Linked DNA regions of Homo sapiens: region 2 is linked to region 1. Evidence: fine-mapped expression QTL. Tissue or cell type: whole blood. Region 1 holds a variant in brackets; the other region holds the start of a gene. All regions are shown on one strand. Distances are between the middles of the regions.

What was found. PIP is the estimated chance that this variant, and not a neighbour inherited with it, causes the effect.
Region 2: PPP4C starts here. The variant in region 1 is the best candidate, but not a certain one, in a credible set for the expression of PPP4C in whole blood (TOPMed, PIP 0.60).

What each region holds. Positions count from the first base shown.
Region 1 is chr16:30,037,962-30,043,334 of GRCh38, reverse strand. It overlaps a transcript of TLCD3B not described here. Among named protein-coding and RNA genes, the nearest start is that of TLCD3B, 9.4 kb to the right of the region's middle. The variant AG/G (reference allele first, on the strand shown) is at 2,676.
Region 2 is chr16:30,073,493-30,078,865 of GRCh38, reverse strand. PPP4C (protein phosphatase 4 catalytic subunit) reads right to left here and starts at 2,872. Exons shown (of 9, transcript NM_002720.3): 1 at 2,772-2,872; 2 at 2,391-2,551. The coding sequence starts at 2,488. RefSeq lists enhancers at 2,259-2,348, 3,971-4,150 and a silencer at 2,459-2,598.

The DNA.
Region 1 (5,373 bases):
GGAGGATCCCCTGAGCACAGGAATTTGAGGTTACAGTGAGCTAATCGTACCAGTGTACTTCATCAAGGGAGACAAAATGAGAGACCCCGTCTCAAAAATCAAAACAAAACAAAAACCCCAGTATGTCTGTCTTAAGATTATTGTGGATATTATGTTAGTTAATATATATAAAGGGCTTAGATTGCTGCCGGATGTCTAGTAAATGCTCTATAAATGTTTGCTTTTTTTTTCTTTTGGAGACGGAGTTTTACTCTGTCACCAGGCTGGAGTGCAGTGGTCTGATCTCGGCTCACTGCAGCCTCTGCCTTTCAGTTTCAAGCAATTCTCCTGCCTCAGCTTCCTGAGTAGCTGGGATTACAGGCGTGTGCCACCACGCCTGGCTAATTTTTTTTGTATTTTTAGTAGAAATGGGCTTTCACCATGTTGGTCAGGCTGGTCTCAAACTCCTGACCTCATGATCCACCCACCTCGGCCTCCCAAAGCATTGCGATTACAGGTGTGAGCCACTGTGCCTGGCCTAATGTTTGCTCTTATTAGGTCAAATAGAGAAAAACAACAACAACAATAACAACAACAAAAAACACCCATAACTGACCATAACTGAGGTTTTTTTTTGTGGGGAAACAAAGGTTTGGAGAAGCTAGAGGCTGAGTTAGGATATTGGTAAGTTTCTGGATTCCCAGTCTAATTGCCAGCCATTTCAATCTTCAATAATTAATATAACCTCTCAGCTTCCACTTAATCACTTGCAAAATGGAACTAATCCTATCTCATTGGATGTTGGGATTGATGTGTATAAAGGCGGATCAGAGGCAGGGCACGGTGGCTCATGCCTGTAATCCCAACACTTTGGGAGGCCAAAGCGGGTGGATCACTTGAGGTCAGGAGTTTGAGACCAGCCTGGCCAACATGGTGAAACCCCGTCTCTACTAAAAATACAAAAATTAGCTGGGTGTGGTGGTGGGCGCCTTGGGAGACTGAGGCAGGAGAATCGCTTGAACCCAGCGGGGGCAGATTGCAGTGAGACAAGATCGTGCCACTGCACTCCAGCCTGTGCAAAAGAGTAAAACTCCATCTGAAAAAAATAAAATAAAATAAAATAAATAAGTAAATAAATAAATAAAGGCGGCTCAGAAAATGAGCATTAGGACAATGATGCCTTCTCAACTGGTATAATATCGCCCCCAAGGGGGCAAAAAACTTACTCTTTTTAATATGGAAAAGATATATGTAAATAGACATAAATATATCTGTGTTATTAAACTTTCGTGATAGGCAGCGATTAGAAAAAAAAGTGTAAAAAGGGCTCCTTAGGGGAACAATAATGAAAGAAAAATTGAGAAACACTGCTCTCCAAACCAAGATTTTTCCCGCTTGGCTTGTTTAGCCACTAGTGGGCAGTGAAATTGGCTTAATGGGTCATGATCAATATTTGGTGGAAAAATGGTCTAGAAAATTCCACAGGGCACTGCATATAGTAAGTCAGAATGTGTTGTGCAAAGGTTTTCCATTCAACGTGTGGGTGCATGAACTGCAGTCACAAAATAAAAGATATCTCGGCTGGGCGCCATGGCTCACCTCTGTAATCCCAACACTTTTTTTTTTTTTTTTTTGAGACAGAGTCCCACTCTGTGGCCCAAGCTGGAGTGCAGTGGCGTGATCTCGGCTCACTGCAAGCTCTGTCTCCCAGGTTCATGCCATTCTCCTGCCTCAGCCTCCCAAGTAGCTGGGACTACAGGCACCCACCACCATGCCCAGCTAATTTTTTGTATTTTACAAAAATTACAGGCGTGTGTAATCCCAACACTTTGGTAGGCCAAGGCGGGCAGCTCACTTGAGGTCAGGAGTTCAGACCAGCCTGGCCAATATGGTGTCTCTACTAAGAATACAAAAATTAGCCAGGCGTGGTAGCATGCACCTGTAATCCCAGCTACTTGGGAGGCTGAGGTAGGAGAATCATTTACGCAGGAGGTGGAGGTTGTAGTGAGCTGAGATTGTGCCACTGCACTCCAGCCTGGACAACAGAGTGGGACTCTGTCTCAAAAAAACAAAACAAACAAACAAAAAATAAATACATAAAGAAATAAAATAAAAGATATCTCTTGTGGGTCACTATTAAAAAAATTTAAAGCCATTGCTCAAAACCACAATTTTCTCCTCTCATATTTTCTCTCTCAGACAAGCCTGTGCAGCCTTGGACTGTTTTGCTCTCAACAAGAAGAAATCGACAAGGAAAGGAAGAAATGTAGGAGAGAGTCCAGATTCCAGTGAGACTCGGGCCTGACTCTAACCAGCTCATGGCCTGTAAACTTTCCTCCCTTCCACATTTTCTTGTCTAGGGTAAGCACAGGTGCAGAGGAAAATGACCATCCCTGGTCACACTCAGTGGCTCACGCCTGTAATCCCAGAATTCTGGGAGGCTGAAGCAGGAGGATCGCTTGAGCCCAGGAGTTGAAGACCAGCCTGGGCAACATAGCAAGATCCCATCTCTAGAAAAAAAAACCTCCCCAGATTAGCCAGGTGTGGTGGTGCACGCCTGTCATCCCAGCTACTCAGGAGGCTGAGGTGGAAGGATCACTTGAGCCCGGGAGGTGGAGGCTGCAGTGAGCTGTGATTGTGTCACTGCACTCCAGCCTGGGTGACAGAGTGAGACTCTGTCTCAAATTTAAAAAAAA[AG/G]AAAAAGAAAATAACTGCAGAGGGGTGCTACTCCTCCTCACTCCTTCTGCCTCTCCTACTCTCATCCCTTCTCTTCCCCTTTTTCCCTCTCCCACCTTCTCTCCTCCCCTCATGCCTTCCCCTCTCTTCGCCTCCTTTTCTCCAGACTTGGAAGGCAGCGGTCACATTTACCGATTTTGTCATGTACTGTATGGTCTGAAGCATGTCATTCAACTTTTCTGAGACTCAGATTTCTCAGCAGTAAAATGAGGAAGTTATTTGTAAGGTGGCATAGATGATTAAACGGGAACATGTATATAAAGTATTTCAGCCTGGTGCCTGGCATACAGTGGGTGCTCAGAATGACAGTAACTGGCTACTGGCTACCGTGTGAAGTATTGTAGTTTCTATGCATTGGCATGATTTAGTCCTCACAATGAGCTATGCAGGAGCTGGGCAAATAGCAGGGCAGGCTGCCTGGTTTCAGACCCCAGCTCAGGATCTTTTCATATATATATATATATATATATATTTTTTTTTTTTTTTGAGACAAAGTCTTGCTGTGTTGCCCAGATTGGAGTGCAGTGGCACCATCTCGGATCACTGCAACCTCCGCCTCCTGGGTTCAAGCAATTCTCCTGCCTCAGCCTCCTGAGTGATTGAGATTACGGATGTGCACCACCATACCTGGCTAATTTTTGTATTTTCAGTAGGGATGGGGTTTCGCCATGTTGGCCAGGCTGGTCTCGAACTCCTGACCTCAGGTGATCCACCCCCTTCTGCCTCCCAAAGTGCTGGGATCACAGGCGTGAGCCACCATGCCTGGCCGCTCTTGGTTTAACTTTTAATTTTCAGAGTCCCATCCAGAGGGAAGAAAATAAAGTAGCTAAAGAAGCAAACACTGGCCGAGCATGGTGGCTCATGCCTGTAATCCCAGCACTTTAGGAGGCCAAGGCAAGGGGATTGCTTGAGGCCAGGAGTTCAAGACCAGCCTGAGCAACATAGCAAGACCCCATCTCTATAAAAAGTACAAAGATTCCTTTCCATAGAACATAGCTAAAAATTTTTTTTTAAATACAAAAATTAGCTGAGTGTTGTGTGCACACCTGTAGTCCCAGCTACTCTGGAGGCTGAGGCAGAGGCTAAGGAGGATTGCTTGAGTCCAGAAGTTTGAGTCTGCAATGAGGTAGGATCATGCCATTGCATTCCAGTCTGGACAACAGAGTGAGACCCTGTCTCAAAAGAATATGAGGAAGAAGCCGGGCGCAGTGGCTCACACCTGTAATCCCAGCACTTTGGGAGGCTGAGGTGAGCAGACCACCTGAGATCAGGAGTTCGAGACCAGCCTGACCAACAGGGAGAAACCCCATATCTACTAAAAATACAAAATTAGCCAGGCGTGGTGGCGCATGGCTGTAATCCCAGCTACTCGGGAGGCTAAGGCAGGAGAATCGCTTGAATCTGGGAGGCGACGTTTGCGGTAAGCTGAGATTGCGCTATTGCGCTCCAGCCTGGATACCTGGATAACAAGAGCGAACCTCCATCTAAAAAAAAAAAAAAAAAAAAAAAAAAAAAAGAGAGGAAGGAGGAGGAGAAGGATAAGTTCTGAAAATATGAATGAGGATGTCTAAATTGTATTCAGTGGTGTTTTTTCCCTCCTTTTTAAAAAAGCCTTTCAGTTCCTTAGGAAAATAAGTTTATGTTTTCTATATCTGCCTAACATTATAGGGACAAATAAATTCAGAAAATATGATTTTAAAAAATTTTTATTCACTTCCTGACTGTTTAACCTTGGACAAGTTACCAAACCTCTCTGTGCCTCTGTTTTCTGATCTGTAAAACAGAGGTGCAGTAATAATCCCTACCCACAAGGTTGCTTTGGATAAATGACTTGATATTTTTAATTAAATTTTTTTTTTTTTGAGACAGAGTCTCGCTCTGTCGCCCAGGCTGAAGTGCAGTGGCGTGATCTCGGCTTCTCAGCTCACTGCAACCTCCGCCTCCCAGGTTCAAGCGATTCTCCTGCCTCAGCCTCCCAAGTAGCTGGGATTACAGGCACATGCCACCATGCCCAGCTAATTTTTGTATTTTTAGTAGAGATGGGGTTTCACCATGTTGGTCAGGCTGGTCTTGAACTCCTGACCTTGTGATCTGCCCGCCTTGGCCTCCCAAAGTGCTGGGATTACAGGCGTGAGCCACTGCGCCCAGCCCTTAATTGATTTTTTTAGAGACGGAGTCGCACTCTGTGGCCCAAGGCTGGAGTGCAGTCTCGTGATCAAAGCTCACTGCAGCCTCAACCTCCTGTCCTCAAGTGATCCTCTTGCCTTGGCCTCCCAAAGTGCTGGTACTACAGGTGTGCACCACCACACTTGGCCTTTTTTTTTTCTTTTAGAGTCAGAGAATGCAGATCAATGTCTGACCTGTAGTCTAAGCAGCATTTAATGATGTGACACTAATTATTAACCCAACCTCACAGATGAAGAAATTGAGGCCCATAAAGGCTTTGCCCACCATCATTCAGAGAAAGGAAGAGCCTAAATTTAGAATTTTAAAAACTGCAGCTTCACTTAAGGGGCACACATTTTAAGAGGATGCCTCGAGAATGTTTACATATGTATACACTGGTGATCAATATAAGGCCATTTCCAACACTTCAGAAGGTTCCCTGGGGTCTCCTCCCAGTCAATACCTTCCCCAAGTTAAACGCTGTTCAGATTT
Region 2 (5,373 bases), 36 kb before region 1:
GATACCCGGACTCTCAACTGCATGTCATTATCACTTCAAAAAATCAGAAAGTGACTTGACGAGGGTCATATTGCTTCTAGGTGACAAGGCAAAGATTCATACTGAAGACCACCTGATTCAAAAGCTCAGCTCTCCTACTGTGCTAATATTTCTAGTAGCAGCAATTTCAGCTCAGACACTGCGGACCTCTGTGCTTCCACTGGTTTCATCTGCATGTCTGTGCCCTCTAGGCAAGCTGGTGCTCTTGACACCACCAGCCTCAGCCTGGGTCTCTGATGGGTCCCCAGGAGGCCATAACCAGGTATCAGAGATGGCCCTGCTTCAGACTGAGCCTGGGACAACAGCGGCCAACTCAGGCCTTGGCCTAGTACCTCCTAGTTCCACTCAGTTTCAACTGGGCAGGACCCTCCACCCCTCAGCCTTCCATGGCTTCCTGCTGCCTCACACCCCACATCAAAATCTAAATGCCTCTGCCTGGCTCTCAGTGACCACGGAGCACAGTCAAAGACCTGGATGCAAAACTAACTTCCCCTCCGACTAGCTGCGTGATGTTGGGCAAGACATTATCTACTCAAAGGCTCAGTTTCCTCTGCTATGAAATGGGGCTAAGTACTCAGCCCACCCTGCGTATTCCTTAGGCTGTTGCAAGGAGCCATGGAGACTGAATATACGACTTCCTGCTATTCTGCAAACTCCAGCATGCTATCTAAGCTTTGTCTACCATCACCACCACACTGATCCAGGGCCCGTGAGGGAGACAATACTTCGAGGTTAAAGAATAGTGCCAGGCAACAACAGGTTTAAGTTCCTAAAAATGCCAATCAGGACTGAGGGAAAGGGGACAACTAAAAACACCATGGGGCTGGTCTGGTCAGCTGGCAAAAGAGAAAAGCCACAGACAGGTGGCGAAAAAGAGGCCGACCCTGCTCATCATCCCCTCACAGGCCCTGTCTGGCTGCAGGTAGTCTATGTGAGGCAGGGCCAGGCAAAGAGCCTGAGGGCCACAGATTCAGGACCCAGCTCTGCCACGTCCTCAGTGGGTGACCTCAGTTAAGTCACCAGACCTCTACGAGTCATGGCTTCCTATTCGATAAAATGCAGCAAATGATTCCAACCTCATAGGATTGCTGGGGGGAAGAGATGGATAGAAGTTTTTTGCCAGTACCGGGCCAGGCCAAATAGTGGCCCTGTAAAGGCCAATGTTTACTGTTCAATAAACGTAGGGTAATTCTGTGGGCTCTTCTGCCACAATTCTCCAGCCTGGTAGAAGCCACAATCACACAGTTCCCCAGAGGAGGCAGGTAATTAAACCCCTGACTGTTCCCCACGCATCTCAGGGCCTCCACTGTTACATTCGTCCTGCTTGGAATGCCCTTCCCTCACTGGCCCTGCCTCCATCAGCTAGCCAAATTATCTTCATCCTTCAAGGCCTACCTCCACTCAAAAGCCCTCCCTGATGGCTTTAGCCCATCTCATTATTGCCCTCTTCCAAAAGAAATAGAATACCTGGTGATTATCAAGCACGTATGCTGTACCAAAACACTGTGCTAACCTCATCTCCAGCACCAACTCACTGAATCTTCACAATCATCTTATTAAGTACTATTAATTCTGCTTTACAAATAAAGACACTTAAGATTACTAACACAGCTAGAAAGCGGCAGAGTTCAGATTCAAACCTAGAGCCATCTCACACTGCAAAACCTAGAGCCTTAACCACTACATCATCCTACTTCCCACAGAACTCTGAACTGGCCTCCCTATCGTGCTTAATTCTACCCTGGCTTACTTGCTACGATTTCTCAGGCTCCCACCCTGAACGTGAATGATCCAACTCCACCTTTTTGCATTATGGCCTGAAAAAGGACAGGACACTAAGAGCTGGCTTCAGACCCCATTCCTTACTTGTGGGTAACTTTGAACATGAAAGTTCCCACCTGTAAAATGAGTACAATACCACCAATCTTTAAGGGTTGTTGTAATTAGAAGACTTTTATAAATCACAGGGTCTTTAACTTTCCTGTCTTAAACTTTTGGTTTTTGGCTGACTCTTTTACCACCTCCTTATTCGAGGCCTCTCCCACAGTTCGGCCCCCCTCCAACAAGCTTCCGTCCCCCGACAGATGGACTTGTTTCCTTGAGTTTCCTAAGTACTTTATGTAACACTCTTACTCCACTGGAAACACATCGTCTAATAAACTTTAAGTGTCTTTATCCACTCTGTCTTCCCCGAGCAGGCTAGCTTTTCCTCGAGGGCAGCGGCTCCATCCTGCTCCTCTCTGGGAAAGCTTCCAGAACGAGGCAAGCCCAAAGTTCTCAGTTGGGTTTGCCCCAGGCCAGAACCCGTGGGCGGCGGCTTGGCCTCCCTTCCCCAGGGCCAACGAGCTCACCTGGCCTTAGCGCACAGGGCCTTGACTTCGCTCTCCTTGATGAGCTCGCAGCGACGCAGCTGCTCGATCTGCCGGTCCAGGTCGCTGATCTCCGCCATGGCCCACCCCCGGCGCGGGTCAGAGTCGGGGCCGCCGCCCCCTCCGCACCGCACAGGGGTCTCCTGGGAAAGGCCAAGACGAGCCCGCGGATCAGTGTCCGTCCGGGGCTCGGAGCGGACAACTCGATTCTAGAGCCGGCCCGGCTCCCCCACCCCCGCCTCCCCTCACATCGGCCCCAGGACCCCCCGGCGTCCAACGGCCTGGCCGCACCCCCGCTAACTCCCGTCGAACCCCGCGGTCCCGCGCTAAGGACGGTGACTTAGAGGAGTCTCGCACTATTACCGCCGCTGCGACTCCGGTTCCGGCTCTCCGGCTCCCTGCCTCCCTCTTTCACTCCGCTTTCGACCGCCGCCGCCGCCGCCGCCGCCGCTCCTACTTCCGGCCCCGCCGCGGAAGCAAAGGAGGCCAGTTCCGCCGCGCGCCGGATGTGGCGTCATACACGCTCCTCTCCTTTCGCAGCGACCCCTGCACCACTTCTCCAGCCTGAGATCGGGAAGGAGGTGGAGGAACCCGGTGGCGGCCAGTGGCAGTTTTGTGGGCTCTGCCGCTGGGCGATGTGGAGGCTATTAGAAACCCTAGACCAGTCCCCTCCCATATCATTTCATAAAAATGTTTAAACAACTGTCTTTTCTTTTTTTGAGACGGAGTTTTGCTGTTGCCCAGGCCGGGGTGCAATGGCACGAACTCGGCTCACCGCAACTTCCGCCTCCCGGGTTCCAGCAATTCTCCTGCCTCAGCCTCCTGAGTAGCTGGGATTACAGGCATGCGCTACCACGCTGGGCTAATTTTGTATTTTTAATAGAGACGGGGTTTCTCCATGTTGGTCAGGCTGGTCTCTAACTCCCTACCTCAGGTGATCCGCGCCCCCACCCACCACCACCCTTCGGCCTCCCAAAGTGCTGGGATTACAGGCGTGAGCCACCGCGCCCGGCCACAACTTTCTTTTTTCTAAATTAGAGACAGGGTCTCGCTCTATCGCTCAGGCTGGAGTCGGTGGGGCTATCATAGGTCACTGTGACCTCGAACTCCTGGGCACAAGCTATCTTCCCGCCTCGGGCCTCCCAAAGTGCTGGGATTACAGGCGTGAGCCACCGCGCCCGGCCATCCCCCATTTCAGCTAGGGAAACAAGCCGAGCTGGGGCTAGGCTTTGTAACTTTATTACACTTTTTTTTTTTAACATTACACTTTTTTTTTAATGTTACACATTTTTGTTACTTGTTTTGTCAGCCTTCCCCACCACAGTCCTTGGAGGATCCAACTTTGTCTTTTTAAATATTGCAGCCCCAGTGGTTAGAATAAGGCCTGGCACGGTAGGCATATATAGATACTTGTTAATACTTGTTCAATGGATGAGGGAAGCCAAGTTCAGATCTCTTCCTGTGCCGTCAGAGAAATATTTGCCGTGGACAACTTCAGAAGTTAACAGATTGGAGTCCACTTTTCCCACGCCAAGCCTGTGCCTCAGTCAGCATGACTTCTCTGATTCCAAAATGGCACTCTTGACATTTCTTAGTTGCTTCCGTTTTTCTTTTTGAGACAGAGTCTCACTCTCTCGCTCTGTCGCCCAGGCTGCAGTCCAGTGGCGCCATCTCGGCTCACTGCAAGCTCCGCCTCCCGGGTTCACGCCATTCTCTTGCCTCTGCCTCCTGAATAGCTGGGACTACAGGCGCCCGCCACCAGGCCCGGCTAATTTTTTTGTATTTTTTAGTGGAGACGGGGTTTCACCGTGTTAGCCAGGATGGTCTCGATCTCCTGACCTCATGATCCACCTGCCTCAGCCTCCCAAAGTGCTGTACCACAGGCGTGTACCACCGTGCCCGGCCTCTTTTTTTTTTTTTTTTTTTTTTTTTGAGACGGAGTCTTGCTTTTTCACCCCGACTGGAGTGCAGTGGCACAATCTCGGCTCACTGCAACCTCCGCCTCCCAGGTTCAAGCGATTCTCCTGCCTCAGCCTCCCAAGTAGCTGGGATTACAGGCATGTGCCACGACGCCTGGCTAATTTTTGTATTTTCATTTATTTATTTTTTTAAGACAGAGCCTTCCTTGCTCTTGTCGCCCAGGCGGGAGTGCAGTGGAGCGATTTTGGCAAACCGCAACCTCCGCCTCCTGGGTTCAAGCAATTCTCCTGCCTCAGCCACCTGAGTAGCTGGGATTACAAGCACCCGTCACCACGCCCAGCTAATTTTTGCATTTTTAATAGAGACGGGGTTTCACCATTTTGGTCAGGCTGGTCTCGAACTCCTGACCTCAGGTGATCCACTCTCCTCGGCCTCGGAAAGTGCTGGGATTACCAGCTTGAGCCACCGTGCCTGGCTTCTTAGTTGCTTTCTATTAAGTTTTGTGCCTTTTTTAAGAGGAGGAAACTGGCTCAGAGGGGTTAAATAACTTGTTCATTGCTTGTATAACAGTGGATTGGGGATGTTACACTGAAATTTGAATCCGGGGCTAGGTGTGGTGGCTCAAGCATGTAATCCCAGCACTTTGGGAGGCCGAGGCGAATCACTTAAGCCCAGGAGTTCAAGACCAGGCTGGGCAACAGAGTGAGACCCAGTCTATAAACAAAAAGAATAAGAAACTTGGGCTGGGCGCGGTGGCTGACGCCTGTAATCCCAGCACTTTGGGAGGCTGAGGCGGGCGGATCACGAGATCAGGAGATCGAGACCATCCTGGCTAACATAGTGAAACCCCGTCTCTACTAAAAATACAAAAAAATAGCTGGGCGTGGTGGCGGGCGCCTGTAGTCCCAGCTACTTGGGAGGCTGAGGCAGGAGAATGGCGTGAACCCAGGAGGCAGAGCGTGCAGCGAGCCAAGATTGCGTCACTGGACTCCAGCCTGGGCAACAGAGCGAGACTCTGTCTCAAAAAAAAAAAAGAAAGAAATTT